2 separate regions of the Homo sapiens genome follow, and region 2 is linked to region 1. The links come from fine-mapping of genetic effects on gene expression. A gene starts in region 1. The other region holds a variant in brackets. All regions are shown on one strand. Distances are from middle to middle. Region 1 holds the start of CDS2 (CDP-diacylglycerol synthase 2). Region 2 overlaps CDS2 (CDP-diacylglycerol synthase 2).

What was found. PIP is the estimated chance that this variant, and not a neighbour inherited with it, causes the effect.
Region 2: its variant is fine-mapped to the expression of CDS2 in whole blood (INTERVAL, PIP 0.93).

Annotation. Positions count from the first base shown.
Region 1 is chr20:5,121,664-5,130,635 of GRCh38, reverse strand. CDS2 (CDP-diacylglycerol synthase 2) reads right to left here and starts at 3,628. Exons shown (of 13, transcript NM_003818.4): 1 at 3,487-3,628. The coding sequence starts at 3,543. It also overlaps a transcript of PCNA not described here. RefSeq lists enhancers at 2,790-2,879, 3,456-3,957 and a silencer at 3,220-4,139.
Region 2 is chr20:5,158,347-5,167,318 of GRCh38, reverse strand. The region is part of intron 1 of CDS2 (CDP-diacylglycerol synthase 2); the gene reads right to left. Among named protein-coding and RNA genes, the nearest start is that of CDS2, 36 kb to the right of the region's middle. The variant C/T (reference allele first, on the strand shown) is at 4,403.

The DNA.
Region 1 (8,972 bases):
AATTTTGTATTTTTAGTAGAGACGGGGTTTCTACTAAAACCCCGTTGGTCAGGCTGGTCTCGAACTCCTGACCTCAGGTGATCTGCCCACCTCAGCCTCCCAAAGTGCTGGGATTACAGGCGTGAGCCACCGCGCCCAGCCTATTCCAGAGCTTTTAAAGCACTGACTTGAAAATTGTTCACTGGATTCTTCTACTATGAAATTAAAAAGTTCTTGTTTCATAATGCATTTCCTTAAAATTTATTATTTCTAATTTCCTTGGGTTCTAACACAAGAATATTGGCAAAGCCAAAGTCATGGAAGTAGGTGTTTCCCAAACTATGAAACAGAATAAATCAGGATTTTTTAAAAGTTTACTATGGGCCGGGCACGGTGGCTCACACCTGTAATCCCAGCACTTTGGGAGGCCAAAGTGGGTAGATCACCTGAGGTCAGGAGTTCGAGACCAACCTGGCCAACATGGTGAAACCTCGTCTCTACTAAAAACACAAAAAAATTAGCCAGTCGTGATGGCAGGCACCTGTAATCCCAGGTACTGGGGAAGCTAAGGCAGGAGAATTGCTTGAACACGGGAGGTGGAGGTTGCAGTGAGCCGAGATTGTGCCATTGCACTCCAGCCTGGGCAACAAGAGCGAAACTCTGTCTCAAAAAAAAACAAAAAAACAAACCAACAAACAAAAGTTTACTATATACATTCAAAGACAAATAATAGATTTCACAGTTTTTAAAATGTTCCCTTATTAAAAATCCCAAACATGGCCAGGTGTGGTGGCTCACGTCTGTAGTCTCAGCACTTTGGGAGACCGAGGCGGGCAGATCACGAAGTCAGGAGTTCAAGACCAGCCTGGCCAATACAGTGAAACCCCATCTCTACTAAAAATACAAAAAAAAAAACGCCAGGTACAGTGGCTCATGCCTATAATCCCAGCACTTTGGGAAGCTGAGGCGGGAGGATCACCTAAGGTTGGGAGTTTGAGGCCAGCCTGACCAACATTGAGAAGCCGTGCCTCTACTAAAAATACAACATTAGCCGGGCATGGTAGCACACGCCTGCAGTCCCAGCTACTCGGGCGGCTGAGGCAGGAGAATTGCTTGAACCTGGGAGGTAGAGGTTGCGATGAGCCAACATCATGCCATTGCACTCCAGCCTGGGCAAAAGAGCGAAACTCCCTCTCAAAAAAAAAAAAAAAAATTAGCCGAGCGTGGTGGCGGATGCCTATAGTCCCAGCTACTCAGGAGGCTGAGGCAGGAGACTAGCTTGAACCTGGGAGGCAGAGGTTGCAGTGAGCTGAGATCGTGCCACTGCACTCCAGCCTGGGCGACAGAGAGAGACTCCGTCTAAAAAAATAATAATAATAAAATCCCATACATGACAATTCAGTGACAATTGAGAAGTTCTGAATAATGGGGTGAGGAACTGATTGTCTTGTTCTCGGTAATGAACATCAGGCTTTTAACAGAGTGCATAGCAGCTGTCTTTTAGGAAACAACACGCCACAAGTGGACCTCATGACCCCAGGCATTCTGTCACTGTATAAGTGATATAAGTGCACCTCTAGCTGGACAGCTCCTCAGGTCCTCCCAGTCTAAAGTACAGGATGTGAAAGTAAGACGGTTCAACTCGCACTTTATCTCTGGGGGATGGATCCAACGAGTCCGGGAAGGAGGGTAGAATCTTTATGTTGCATCTCATAATCCCAAGGTTGTTTTTTGACATTCTAATTATTGTACATAGTTAGCTTTTCAAAAACATGGCCCACCAGCTATCATGCCTTCTTTCTTCTCTCTCTCCTCACACCTTCTAGGTCCACAAAGTCCCACTAACATCAAGCATGATCTCACCCTTAAACAGAGCTACAGAGCCTCCAAACATCTGCATACTCACCAACTAGTAGTACAAGGTAAGTCAGAATTCTTTCAGGCTGAACCAGGATAGCCAAATGAAAAATTAGAGACTTCAAAGTATCTTGTCTCTGCAAGCGACTGCTAAATCCTCAGCCCCAGCCCTAAATGTTCTCCAAAATATGTTTTTGTTTTTGTTTTTTGAGACAGGGTCTCAAACTCCTGGGCTCAAGCGATCCTCCTGCCTCAGCCTCCCTAGAAGCTAGGATTACAGGCGAGCAGCACTGTGCCTGGCCAAAATATATGTTCTAAAAATCGGTAGGAACAGTTCTCTTTGGATAGTCCACTGTCAACTGCAATAACACGAAAGTTGTTTAAAAAAAACCCATGATCTCATTATCTTTCACCAAAAACATTCCTCCTAGTGTAACTGCTCTGTTGACATCCTGTCACCAAATCTTGTGCTTTCTTCCTTCTGGGTGTCTCCCTAATGTCCGTTGCGTCCAGTCATCAAAAAGTTACAGGCTGCATTAGGGGAAGCCGTGAGCCTGGTGTAAGGCAACAGGGATTGGTGGGAACCGATGATCCTCAGCTCCAGCCAACCATTGAGCAGGTGACAAAGTGATGGTGGACCCTCCAATTATCTAAGACAGGCAAGAAATTTAGATTGTTAGGAGAAACTTTCTGATTTTTAAGGCAATATGTGGGCCAAAGAAAACATCTACAGGTCACTCATGGGCAATCCCGAGTGAACCAGGCTCCCTCAGTCTGGTCCAGGCTCCCTCAGTCCCTTCTACACATCACTGTCTGATCAGTTTCCCAAACACAGGGCTCCTGATCACTGCTATCTCGGAAAGCACAACTACTGCTACAAAGTCCTATACTGCCATTCAACCTCCACAGTAATAAAACCAATCCCTACCTTCCTTAACTCCCCTACACAGATCTTTCACTTCACCCAAAGGAGTCCACTCCCCCACCCGTCACCCCCGCCACTGTCCCCGCCAAGATGGCCTCCTTCCTACTCTCCTCCCCTACCCACCAGAGCCCACACGGTGCAGGAAACAACCCATCAACCGGGAGGACGCCCTCCAACACCTGCTGATGACGGACTGGCTCACTGGGTAACACCCCTTTGCTCAAAGCCGATGATTTCATGCCCAAGAAGGGATTTACATCTCCCAGGAGGCAAATGCTATGGCCTTGTCCTGATTCCCCCACCCCCCAAAATAATAACATTGTAAAAGGGAACGGAGAGCCTAAGTTGCGCTCAGAGGAGCCGCCTCCCTAAGAAGGCTCTGCATATCTTCACCTCCAGGAAGGCCTCACGGAGTTGGGGGAGAGGGGAGTCCCCGCAGCCAGCCCAGCGAGGCAGGAGGCCGTGCGCCACTCCCGAGAAGCTCCTTCCTGCGCCCCGGGGGAGCCACTTCAGTCAGACCCTGAGCCGGGACCCCGACCCGCCGACCCCTGACGCGCGCGCCGCGAAGGCCGGGCACCCGAGGGCCCTTCGCGCTACCCGGGCCCGGGGCCGCCGTCGGCTGCGACAAAGGGTCAGAGAACAAGACGACCCCTCTGCGCGCGTCCCCCGCAGGCCTCCCGGATGCGCCGCTGTCCCGGCCGCGCCCACCCCGACGCTGCCGCTACCTTGTCCTCGGGTGGCGCAACCGGCTCATGGGCCACCCTCTGCCTCAGCTCTGTCATCCTGGGAAAATCGGCCCGACGTCGCCGCGAGCTAGCAGCGAAGCCGCCGGAGCAGGCAGCTCGGCGCGGGCACGCGCGGACTCCCACGGCCGGCCCCGCCCCGCCCGGGAGGCGCGCGGCTCTGAGCGGCTCACAGTTCCCTTAGCAGCCCAGCAGCCAGCCCTGGAGCTCGGCCCCACCCAGTGCCGTCACCGCCCTTTCACCCGGGCCGAGCGGGGTCAGCCTTCCCTAGCCCCGACCCGAGAGCTCCCTCTCCCGGGAGCAGGGCTCGGAGCGAGTGCGCACGCGCAGCGCCACCATCACGGTCCGGAATATCCACCAATGGCGCAAATACGCCAGGGAGGCAGGGCGACGGGGGCGGGGCGGGGCGGAGCAGAGTCGAGAGGCGCGCATTGGACGGCAGCGTCAGGGGCGGGAAAAGGCGTGCGTTTCAGTGTGCGATTAGCCAATGGGAGCTCCCGCTTAACCGCGGATGGCCGGAGCTGGCGCCCTGGTTCTGGAGGTAACCGGTTACTGAGGGCGAGAAGCGCCACCCGGAGGCTCTAGCCTGACAAATGCTTGCTGACCTGGGCCAGAGCTCTTCCCTTACGCAAGTAAGTAGACGTTATTTAGGTCGAATGGAAAGGCCAGGTGAGCCGACCTGGTTAAGAGCATTTTATCACTTATCACATGATGAGAAATGAAACCCACGCTTCAGTCTGCTTTGCTTTGCCAAGCGGTCGCTAGTACTTGTTAAGCACTAATTGTATACTAGGCACTGAGCTGAGTAATCGCTTTAGTTGGCTTATCTCGTTTAATCCACACATGGCTTGGAAGTGGGTATGATTTGAATTTTACAGTTAAGATCTTCCTCAGTGGTTTGTTTGTTTGTTCGTTTGTTTGTTTGTTTTGTGACGGAGTCTCGCTCTGTCGCCCAGGCTGGAGTGCAGTGGCATGATCTCGACTCACTGCAACCTCTGCCTCCCGGGCGCAAACAATTCCAAGGTGCGCGCCACCACGCCCGGCTAACTTTTGTATTTTTAGTAGAGACGGGGTTTCACCATATTGGTCAGGCTGGTCTCGAACTCCTGACCTCAGGTGATCCGTCCGCCTCCGCCTTCCAAAGTGCTGGGATTACAGGCGTGAGCCACCGAGCCTGGCCCTTCCTCAGTTTTTCAAATTTGTCTTCTGGACTATGGAAAGACCTTTTTTGGGACAGAAGTGCTGTCTACTTTGTTTACTGTGCATCCTCTATGTCTTTGACACATCCATTGTAAGTACTTGTTGGATGGATTTAAAACTTTTAAAAGGACCTTAGCCAAGGTCTCCCAGCTAGAAAGTGCCTAGTAAGAATTAGAACACAAACAGGTTTGTTACCAGCCCACACTCTAACCACCATACTATACTGCCTGCCTGCATTTATTAATACTTGTGTTGCTCCAGCATTGCCTTTGGTGTTTCCTGTTCTTTCTATTCACTGCCCTGTAAGTGATGTAAAACACATATAACACTGCGTCCCCAACTTAAGCATACTGTAATCTCACAATGAGACACTTGCACACAAAAGAATTGCAATTTCGTTTTTTAAAAAAATATAATTTTACATTTTTCTTCTTTTCAATTTTTAAATTTTAATTAATTTATTTCTCCTTTTTTTAGAGACAGGGTCTCACTATGTTGCCCAGACTGGTCTTGAACTCCTGGGTTCAAGAGATCCTCCCGCCTAGGTCTCCCAAAGTGCTGGGATTACAGGCATGAGCTACCATGCCTGGCTAAAATTTCCTATTGGTAATTTTGACCTGAGCTGTGAGTTTTGGGGCAGGTAGTGAGAATTCTGAAAACAGCATTATATATTCCTGATTTCTATATGAGTATATGCCCGAGTAGCTTGGACTACAGGTGTGCAGCACCACACCCAGCTAACTTTTAAATTTTTGTGTAGCGATGAAGTCTCACTTTATTGCTTAGGCTGGTCTTAAACTCCTGGGCTCGAGCAATCCTCCCACATAGGCCTCCTAAAGTTCTGGGATTACAGGCATGAGCCACAGCACTCGAGCAAGATGATCTTCTAAGACAGGTGAAGATGTTAGTGTCTAGAACTTCACCTTCAGGGGCACGTAGGTATGAAAGGTCATATCTAAGTGAGTGTCATGTCAGTCCTTCTAGAAACTCAGCTGCTCCTTTTCAAATCCAGCCTAATAAAAGGAGGCTTGGAGAATCAATGCACATAAGTCAGAATTATAGAATGCACAGCATGATTACTAGGATGGATAACATGTGGTCTGAACAAACTTCTCATCCATTACACTCAGCCCTCTCAGGTTAATGGAACTCAGATCAAGTATATTCCTGAAGTCAGTACTGTGTGACGAACAGGGGTCTGGTGGAAGTGATGCTAATAGGGCTTTAGGCCAGCTTTAGAGCCCTTCTCTCTCTCTCTTTTCGTTTTTTGTTTTCTTTTTGTTTGTTTTTTGTTTTTTTTTTTTAGACAGTTTCCCTCTTGTTGCTCAGGCTGGAGTGCAATGGTGTGATCTCGGCTCACTGCAACCTCCGCCTCCCAGGTTCAAGCAATTCTCCTGTCTCAGCCTCCCGAGTAGCTGGGACTACAGGCGCCCGCCACCACAGCTGGCTAATTTTTGTATTTTTAGTAGAGACAGGGGTTTTAGGTCAGGCTGGTTTTGAATTCTTGACCTCAGGTGATCCGCCCACCTGGGCCTCCCAAAGTGCTGGGATTACAGGCATCAGCCACTGCACCTGGCTCAAGAAACATTCTTAAGCATGCTTGATCTTGGTAAATGCCCCTGATTTCTTCTGTAGGAAAAAACCCTAGAGATCGAATTTCTGTGTCAAAGAATAAGTAAAATTCTAAGGCTTTTGATACACATTTCTAAGTTTCCACCAGAAAAATTATACCAATGTATACTCCCACTTGCAATGTATTTAAGTGCCTACTTCCTTGAATCCTTCCTAACACACCAGGTGTTAACATGATTTTTATTAATTTGGTAGGTTAAAATTCTGTCTCCATTGAATTTACATTTCTTTGCTTATTAATGTGGCTAACAAACTTCACGTTTATGAAGACTAGGACTGGACAGTGGAGGCCAGATACCTCTGGCTTTTTGTTTAGATGAATAAATTTTCTATTTCTCTTAATCCATTCAAGTTGAGTTCTCTGTCACTGAAACCTAAACTATACTAACCAATATAATCCTTTGAGGCATACTGAAGTCTTAAAACTTGTATGGTTATTCATTATGTTTTATGGGTTTTTTTCTTATGTTTGGAAGCCCATAGGAAGATCTCATAAATATTTACCAAAATATTTTTCCATTTCTTATTGGGTCAAGATTTGAATTTGAATTCTTTATCTAGAATTTAGTGAATAATTATTAGGAAAAGTCTTTTTTTTTTTTTTTGAGATGGAGGTTTGCTCTGTCACCCAGGCTGGAGTACAGTGGCGCAATCTTGGTTCACTGCAACCTCTGCCTCCCGGGTTCAAGCAATTCTCCTGCGTCAGCCTCCCTAGTATCTGGAATTACAGGTGTGCACCACCACGCCCAGCTAATTTTTGTATTTTTAGTAGAGACGGGGTTTCACCATGTTGGCCTGGCTGGTCTCGAACTCCTGACCTCAGATGATCCACCTACCTCAGCCTCCCAAAGTTCTGGGATTACAGGCATGAGCCACTGCGCCCATCCAGAAAAGTCTACAGCTTTTATTCTTTTCTAATAGTTTAACCAATTATCTGATCAAAATTTACTTCATTCTTTCTCCCACTGATCCAATAGTACCTTTACTAGATGTTAGAGTAGCCACTTAAAATGTAAATTGGATCACATCAAAGATCTGCTGTTGACCACATTCCCTTGCACTTTTAGAGAGCCTACAAAGTCCTGCAAGAGCTCACCCCAGCCTCTCTGCAACCTCACCTTGCACCACTCTTGCTTCAGACACATCAGTCTGAGTTCTACATCAAACTTGTCTGAATATATTCCAAGTATGCTGACCTTTATAATCATGCTATTCTCTCAGCCTAGAATGCTTTTTTCCAACTCTCCAAGCAGCTGTCTTCTCTGATAAGATGCTACCTCCTCAGAGAGGCCTTCTCTGACCACAGTCATAGGCATGTTTATGTCCTCATTTCAGTTTAACATAAAATTTACGTAACTGTACACCTCTTTATCATTTGACACTTTTAGGAGGACATCACTTCTGTAATAGAGCAGAAATAAACAGATTGATGTACATGGTGGATCCCCCATGGATAGAGTTTGTCATTTAAAATGTCTTCAAATCTATTACATGTAATTTGGCATTAAACCAAAATGTTATTATGTAAGCAGACAGAACTGAAACAGAGTAGTGGAGCATATGCATTTGTTTTTAGTGAAGCAAATGTTCCTCACTGGAGGAAGGAACACATTCCACATTTTGCAAAGGAACTGAGATTTTAACGGACCCAAGAAAGGAAAAGAACCACAAACAGATGATGCTGTATTATGTTTTGATATTGAGATGTATGCAAATGGGTAGTCCATCACACATAAAGCAAGAAAGTGCCAACATCAAAACTTACAAATGAGTAGCAGAGGCTTGCAAGAAATTCCAGAGACAATAGAATAGCACTATTGAAAAATACTGCATCATCAATACCCTTGACAACACAGAGTAGGATATTATACAGAAAAACAGCAGAATCAGCAACTAACTGAGTGGAGAAACAGTAGGAATGCCTTAACCAATGTAGCTTAAATTTTTTCATGTTTGCACAAGAGTAATATATAATAAGAATGTTTTTAAAGTCTAAAAGTTCTTTTAAAACAAAATAGACCCGGGCGCGGTGGCTCATGCCTGTAATCCCAGCACTTTGGGAGGCCAAGGCAGGCAGATCACATGAGGTCAGGAGTTCAAGACCAACCTGGCCAACATGGCAAAACCCCGTCTCTACTAAAAATACAAAAATTAGCCAGGTGTGATGGCGCATGCCTGTAATCCTAGCTATTCAGGAGGCTGAGGCATGAGAATTGCTTGAACCCAGGAGGCGGAGATTGCGGTTAGCCAAGATCACACCACTGCACTCCAGCCTGGGTGATAGAGTGAGACTCTGTCTCAGAAAAAAAAAAAAGAAAAAGAAAAAGAAAAAAAAAAAGAAATTCTAAGTGATAAAGCATTGTGTAACAGTTTGAGGCTGGGCACAGTGGCTCATGCCTGTAATCTCACACTTTGGGAGACCGATTGGGAAGATTGCTTGAGCCCAGGAGTTGGAGACCAGCCAGAGCGACATAGTGGGACCTTCTCTCTACAAAAACATTTAAAAATTAGCCAGGTACAGTGGTGCACCCCTGTAGTCCCAGCTATTTGGGAGGTGGCAAGAGGATCTCTCGAGCCTAGAAGTTGGAGGTGGCAGTGAGTAGTCATCTTGCCACTGCACTCCAGCCTGGGTGTCA
Region 2 (8,972 bases), 37 kb before region 1:
GAAAATGTATTCAGCTACCCAGATGGACAGCTTCACTTCCGGCATCTCTAACAGGTTAACTGCACTCAGAGAAAGGACAAGAAAATACATGAATGTGGCAGATTCAGCTTCTTAAAACCTAACTGGCTGTGAGCCATTCTGTCTCCAGATAAAGCTATTTACAAAGGACCACAGGGGACTTGGTAGAGGACACAACACTGATGGCAAAGGACAACTGTCCCCAGGACAGCCACACTCGGAGTCAGCCATGTGCTTGCCATGCCTTCTCCTCCCACCTCCTTAGAGACTCACTCCATTGCCCTCTCCATCTTCTCATCTCTCTCCCTCACCACAGCCCTACTTACAACCATCTAGGCAGGCTCAACAAACAACTTCTGACAGCTCATCCAACCAATGCACTTTCTTCCCCACTTCATGGGTAAACCTCTGGGAAGAGCTGTCGACATTTCATGTCCCCTCCCTGGCTGTGCATCATTCCTCAAACCACAACAACCCAACTTCAACCCCACCTGTTCCACTGAAGCAGCTCTCCCAGGTCAACAAGGACTTTGTCACGAAACCCAGCAGGGACTCAGTCCTCACCTCGTTCAATCCCTCAGCAGCTTTTAATGCTACTATTGAAAAACACTCTTCCTCTGGCTTCCAAGCAGCACCTCCCCCTGGGTTGATGCCTGCCTCTCTGGCCAGGCATCTTTAGCTGACCTTCTCCTTAGGAACTGCCTCTTCATCAGCCTGTCCCCGCATTTGAGGGTTCCTTGGGGTTGGTCCTAAGCTCTCTTATTCTTCTGCTGCCTCCCACTCTCCCTGAGTTTCCCCATTCATTCTCATGCTCCCTGCTGTCTCTTCTTGAGCTACAGACCCTAAATCCAAATAACTACTAGATGTCTCCACAGACACCTAAAACTCACCATGTGTCCAAAACCAAGCTCATCATCTCTTCCCACAAACCTCTTCCTTCTACTATGTGACTTATCTTAGCAAATGGTACCCTTTCCCCGAATTTTCAAGAGAACAAGGTGGCCATCACCCTTAGTGGCTCCTTTCTCAGCTTGTAGATCTGTCACCAAGCTTGTTCATGCTACCTCCAAAACAGCTTTCAGTTGCATCCACTCCTTATGCCACCTGTCATTCCCTTAATTCAAGCCAACATCATCCCTCCTGAGTAACTGCAACAGCCTAACTGGCTACCTCACCTTCAGCCTAGAGTCCACTCCCACCTACGCTCTCGCCACTGCAACACGAGGACCTTCCCAGAAATTCTGATTGTGTCACTCTCCATCCTGAACCCCTTCCACAGCTCCCCAGTACCTAGATGACAGGTCTTCAAAATGGCATACAAGCCCCTTGAGATCAGGGTCTTATCTACTCATCCAGCCTTATCTCTTACAGCCATTCTGAACTAGAGTCAGTTTCTAGAACAGGTTGTACTTTCTTACCTTTAGGACTTTTGCTCCTGTGTTCCTACTTAAACAGTCTGCAAACCACCCTCTACTAAAACCCACTTCTCTTCCAGCAAATTTTCCTTGATCTTTTAAGAGTTCCCTTTCTCTCCAAATCTTCCCCAACTGCCTGTGTGTCCCAGCGGCCCCTGTCCTTCCTTAGGAGTGCTCCCCACCGTGGTTCATGCCTGTAATCCCAAAACTTTGGGAGGCCAAAGTGGGAGGATCGCCTAAGCCTAGGAGATTGAGGCTGCAGTGAGACCTGATCATGCCACTGCATTCCAGCCTAGATGACAGAGCAAGACCCTGTCTCAAAAAAACAAAAAAACAAAAAAAGACGGCTTCCCACACCGCATAGTCTCCGCCTCGAGACCATCATCTCTGTGGGGGAGCCATGTTGACTTCCTCACCACTGTACCCCCAGCACCTGGCCTGGCACCTAGAACCACATCTGCAGAGGCAGCCAGAGCCAATGATGCTGAGAGAATCCAGGGTTTGCTGAAGTGGCAGGTGTAGCTGGGCTACATGTCGCGTAGGCTGACAATTCATTTTTGCACTCAGTAGCACTAGAGGAGGCATTTTAGGGCTGCAGCCAGCTGTCCCACTGTTTATCTCCCCTTCTTCTTAGACATTTGTGGCCAAATGTATCCTAAGCAATACGGGGGTTTCCAAAAAAAGTACAGAATCTGTATGTCTCAGAAAGGATGAGGAAATCCTGTCTGAAATCCAGCTTCTAGGAATGCAAGGCTTTCTAACTCAAATACGTACAGTTGTACTGAGTCCCAACCTCTGCATGACTGCCAGTCTCATACATTAAACCCATAATTTTTGTGACAAGGAATGACCAGGAATCCTTTCTCCCAACACTCTCTCCCACCTTGCCCATTGAAGCCTCCTTCTGGAGTAGATGCATCTGTTTACTAACAGCAAGCATATGACTATAAATATGAAATAGCTGCAGGAAGTACCAACCTCCATCACAAGCCATTACTTAATTCAGAACAGAGACTATCAGAGACAAGAAAACCACTCAGGTCCCCAGGAGGCTCTGCCAACGGCTCTGTTCCGATGACATCACTTGTTTTCCTATTGTCTTCCAGGGTTAGGGGAAAGACACCAAAAATCAGAAGCCCCACTGGAGTCCAACGGGTCCTTCTATTATCAGTTCCTTAGTCGGGCATCTCTATTTAGTATTTAAGGGAAAATGAGTTTTCAGCGCTACTGGGGAAGGAAGGAATTTTTTTTTTTTTTCAGTTTATTAAGATAAAGCTCTCCCAAGGAGGGAGTATGTCTAATACTGCCAAAAGATCTAGTAAGATGGAGAAGAAAAATATATTCGCAATCTCAAAACTGGGCTCAAGTGTGCTCCCCAGACCTCTGTCAGGAAGTAGAACCAGGACAGCTGCTGGGCTCCACATGCGACGAGCCCCTAAATCATAAATCGCCATCTGGTACCTGCTTCACTGTCACTCACCTCACAATAGTGTTTTCTACAAAGATTCCTAGACAAAATAAGTAGACATGAGAGCAAATGTCCCCAGTGTCTCATGCCCCAACCTCCCCTACTCCTGTGGGCAGACAAGCACCCTGGGGCTGTTTACCATATTGGAACATTATATTGTCACTTTTGTAGTATTCCTGGTTTATAACCAACCATCATGGAATCAAGTACCAATCAAATAGACTGTAACTATTCAAGGGAGAAACTAGTATGTTTCTCCCTTGAAGAACATGGAATTAACAGTGTTCTCAATCCCAAATGTGTCATATTAGTTATAGAAGAAATTATGGGGTGGGTGCGGTGGCTCGTGCCTCTAATCCCAGCACTTCAGGAGGCCAAGGTGGGCAATCACCTGAGGTCAGGAGTTCAAGACCAGCCTGGCCGACATGGTGAAACTCCGTCTCTACTAAAAACACAAAAATTATCCAGGCGTGGTGGTGGGCACCTGTAATCCCAGCTACTTGGGAGGCTGAGGCAAGAGAACTGCTTGAACCTGGGAGGTAGAGGCTGCAGTGAGCCGAGTTTGCACCACTGCTTTCCAGCCTGGGCGACAGAGCTAGACTCTGCTTCAAAAAAAAAAAAAAAAAGAAAGAAAGAAATTATGAAAGCCACAATGCTAAATAGTTTCTTTCTCTTTTTGATAAATCACTAAGGATACCTGGGGAAAAAATTAAATTGAAAATGAGAAAGTCTTTGAAGAAACATTCCTAATGGCCAACGATAGGACAATTTGAGCATTAAAATAATAAACAAAAAGTGATTTAAACACAAGTATATGAAAATTTATGAGTTCATAATGATAACTGTAAGAAACTACTGGCCAGGCGCAGTGGCTCACGCCTATAATCCTAGCACTTTGGGAGGCCGAGGCGGGTGGATCACCTGAGGTTGGGAGTTCGAGACCAGCCTGACCAACAGGGAGAAACCCTGTCTCTACTAAAAACACAAAATTAGCAGGGAGTGGTGGCCCATGCCTGTACTCCCAGATACTCAGGAGGCTGAGGCAGGAGAATCGATTGAATCCGGGAGGTGGAGGTTATGGTGAGCTGAGATGGAGCCATTGCACTTCAGCCTGGGCAACAAGAGCAAAACTCTGTCTCAAAAAAATAAATAAAAATAAAAACGAAACAAAAAAAACTACTTTGGCCACCTCTGAAGGGTGCTGAAACACCAAATCTTTTTTTGAAAACCAGTAATTAAAAGGAAAGAGCCTCTCTACATTGCCCAGGCTGGTCTCGAACTTCTGGCCTCAAGTGATCCTCACGCTTTGGCCTCCCAAAGTGCTGGGAGAATAAGCATGAGCCACAGTACCTGGCCATCAAATTACTTTCAAATATCCATTACCCCAGCAAAGAAAAGTCAATGTGGCCTCAGTATGATCTCCCTAGGCTCTGGAGACTAAAGTGCATCTTCAAACATAAGTAAATAAAACAACCTCCATGCTGCCAAATCAGACAGATTC[C/T]CCTGCCTTCATCTTATCATATATCTTGGCAATGTCAGATCTAGTTGACCATTTCCTCCTTGAAACATTCTCCTCTCAGCTACCTCCATACCATACTTATCAGGTTCTCACTCTACCTGACTGGCTGCTCTTTCTCAGTCTCCTGTGACTTTGAAGTCTACCTGACTTCAAAATGTTGAATGGGCCCTGGGCTCAGTTCTGGACCTACCACACTCTCTCCCTAGGTATCATCATCCAGCCCCTTGGCTTTAATTACCAATTCCATGCCAATGACCCCAACATTTGTATCTCCAACCCCAACTTCTCCCCCAAGCTTCAGATTCATATTTCCAACCACTTACTGACATCTCCACGAGAAAGTTCTTACAGGCATCTCAAAAGTAACACATCTAAACAGAACACTTTTGACATTGTCCGTAAAACTACTGATCCTGAAGTCTTGCCTAGTCAATCAGTTGACAGCATGCGAGTCTATATACCCTGCATAAGCCAGAAACCTGAGAGGTAGCGATTGAATACCCCTTAACCAAAATGCTTGAGACCGGAAGTGTTTTGCATTTCAGAGTTCTTTTCAGAATTTGGAATATTTGCATTATACTTACTGGCTGAGCATCCCTAATCAGAAAATCCTAAATTCAAAATGCTCCAATGAGCATTTCCTTTGAGCATCACATTGGCACTCAAAAAGTTTCAGATTTTGAAAATTTCAAATTTTTGATTTTGGGATGTTCGACCCTTAATTCTTATCTCCCTATCTTCCCCCAGGTACTGGACACTGCAGTTGGTTCCCTCCTAAAAATCCATAAACTATTTCATGGTATACAGCAGCTTGTACAGTCTACTTATTTTTAATTCTGCCCCTCTGCCACAGTGATAGGTTCACGAACAGGCATTTACCCCAGCCTAAGGCAATGTGCACCTTGACTGTTTTGGAGTAGGCACTTGACCCAAGATGGTACAAGCAGTTCAAACAGCAAAAATAGCTAATGGCATTTTAGGCTATATTAACACAGGCATGGTCTGGTTCTAGTTAGCGTTAGTCAAACTTTACTTAGAGGCCAAGTACGTCCAATAGAGTGGTTAAAACAGTAAGGAGACAAAAAAGAGCAAGACGATAAAATGAACAGATGAAGAAACCAGAAGGGCTAGGCCTGGAGACAACTGGGAAATGAGCATACTCTACTGCAGTACTGAAAAGGAGAAACTGGTTTTATGTCCCTAACAAGGAAAAATTATTAGGTAAATTACGGTAAATCAACTTTCTGTGCAGCTATTAACAAGACTACTATAAACACCGTGCAGCAACATGAAAAAGGCAGAATATAAAACTATGTCTATACTGGATTATACTACTTACACAAAGTATGTGTCAGTTATCAATGGATTGCCTCTCAATGTATGTGTCAGTTATCAATTGATTGAATCCTTGGGACTCTGCTGGGCTTGGATCAATCCCTTTCAGGTCCACTGCTACCTCCAGGTTTTGTCAGTATAGAACTTTCTGCAATAATGGAAATGTTCTCTCTATACTGTCCAATATGAGAGCCACAGCTGTGTGTGGCTTATTGAACAATTAAAATGTGGCTAGCGAGACTAAGGAAGTGAATTTATGTATTTATTTTTAATTAAATTTAAACTGCCACACACTTCACATCCACTAGAGTGGCTATTTTCAAAAAAGAAAAAAGAAAAACCAAAATAACAAGTACTGGAGAAGATGTGAAAAAACTGAAACCCTTGTGCACTGTTGGTCAGAATGTAAAATAATGCAGCTGCTATAGTAAACAGCCTGGCAGTTCCTCAAAAAATCAAATATAGAATTACCACATGACTCAGCAATTCCACTTCTGGGTATATACCCAAAAGAACTGAGGGCAGGGACTCAAAGAGATATTTGTACACCCATGTTCATAGCAGCCTTATTCACAATAAACAAAAAAGTAGAAGCAATCCAAGTATCTATCAACAAAGGAATGAACAAAATGTAGTATACATATACAGTGGCATATTATTCAGCCTTAAAAAGGAAGGAAATTCTCACACATGCTACCACATGGATGAACCTTGAGGACATTGTGCTAAGTGAAATAAGCCACACACAAAAGGACAAATATATGATTCCACTTACATGAGGTACCTAGAGTAGTCAAATTCGTAGAGACAGAAAATAGAATGGTGGTTGTCAGGGGCTGGGGGAGTGAGAGGGGAGAGTTGTTTAATGGGTACAGAGTTTCATTTGGGGAAGATGAAAATATTCTGGAATGTTTGTTCTGGTGACAGTTGCAAAACAATGTTAACGTACTCAATGCCATAGAACCATACACTTGAAAATGGTTAAAATTATCAATTTTATGATATATATAATATTTAGCCACAGTAAGAAAAGGTTTAATTGGCCACATGTGGCTAGTGGCTACTATACTGGACAATGCAGACAGTCTAACAGCTGTATCCACCCCAACCTGCAACCAGGAAGAAAACTGCTAAGGCTCCCCAAAACTCTGGTTCCCCTACTACTGTGAGGAGGGGGCTAGAACCCCCAACACCACCTCAGCAACCTACAACTTCTAGTCCTCAACAGCCAGGTGAACAGGATTCTGAACAAGGTTCAACCAGTCAAGGGCAGACCTACCCCTTCAGCAAGCATATGAAGTGTTAAGTAGTTGCAGGGCTAAGAAAAGACCTAAGCAAAGCCATCCTCAGCAGAGATGCCGGCTCTCCCCTGCCTTTCTTTTAAATTTAATTCAGTGGCCAGTTACTACTCTGCCTTTTAATAGCAGCAGCAACAGATGAAACAGTTGTGATTCTCGCAGCATCAAATGGCAGTGGCACAAACAGCTCAGCTTCATCATCATCGGCATATGAGCAGCCAGTCAAAAACTAAAATGAAGAAGGCATATCAACCACTCCAATATTCTGAATCTTGCATTATTTTTTCCTCTTTTTTAAAAACATAAGGGCACTGAATCACAAGGATTCTGAGTTTTTACTTCATTTTTAAAAATGTGTCAGTAATTTATACTGCTAAGATGTACAAACTTTACACAGGTGCACAACCCCATTTTTTTTAAGTAAAAACAGGGTAATTATTTAACAAACTAGGGTTGGTTTGCTTTTTAAACTGCACATAATATATATGGAAATGACCTAAAAATTACTAGAAAAATCTTTCAAAAGAACCCAGTTTGGTATATATTTTGTAGAAAAGGTTTGTGAATAATGTAACAAATACAATTTTTACAAATCTGTTTTGGGGGAAAAGAGGAACAGAACAAAGCAGTTACCATCTGCACAGGCATTATTATTCCTTTGACATCTTGCTAATAGTCTGTTAATGAACATCAAAACACCTAAAATTTTCTTCTGATGCTTTACAAAGATTCCTTACACTTGTTTACATGCAAATCATCCAAAACAAAAAGAAAAAAACTATAATATACTTTTAAATTACTGAACTATAAAATTTTAACATAATTTCATCTTCAAATGAATTTATCAAGACCATTGAGTCATTTTTTGATGCTTCTCTGTTCTACATTATCTGACATAAAATTTATGTCACACACTGGGGCCTGTTGTGGGGTGGGGGGAGGGGGAGGGAAAGCATTAGGAGAAATACCTAATGTAAATGACGAGTTAATGGGTGCAGCACACCAACATGGCACATGTATACATATGTAACAAACCTGCACGTTGTGCACATGTACCCTAGAACTTAAAGTATAATTTAAAATATATATTAAAAAAAAGAAAATGTAACACATTAGATTTCTGATATTAATTTGAAATGAATAACAAAATTTAGTCAAGTTTGTAAAGGTCTTAAATGTTTGATAAAACTTTACTACAAAAAAAAAATTCAATCTGATTTTCAAAGCGGCTCGCTTATCCTTCTGTTCCATCGCAAAGACACATGGGTTAAAGCAAGGTTTTCCTAACATCAAGTGCCTCACCCTCACCTGTGCTGAGATAACAGCGTGAAGGAGTCTCAATTCATCTTCACTGTCAGATTTAAATTTTGTTTGGAGAACCCCTAACGTATCAGCAGAGAACACAGTTTGCAAATCACTGCAAAACACCACCATATATCTCTGACAAATGAGTTATTACTACTTGAGGATGCACCTTGTAAGATACAACGATCACCCAGTATTAAATTCCTACTGTGTCCCCAAACCGCTAGCTGCTCAGAAATTGGCTGTGTTCTCATTCTGTCACTCCAACCAGAAACTGGGGTACATAGTGGTGGCTCTGTTTGTACATATCAAACCAAGATTCACAAGCTTTACTGTTAATAGAAAAGTCTACTTATAGTCTTATATCCTGAAAATATGTCATTTGACAACCTGGAGACCAGAGTCAAACAGAATCCATTATAATCTGGAAACAAGTGAAAAATCTTGGTGAGATTTTACAGGGTTGTTTAAAAAATGATGACCTAGGCCAGGCCCAGTGGCTTACACCTACATGTAATCCCAGCACTTTGGGAGGCCAAGGCAGGTAGATCACTTGAGGTCACGTGCTCAAAATCAACCTGGACAACATGGTGAAACCCCGTCTGTACTAAAAA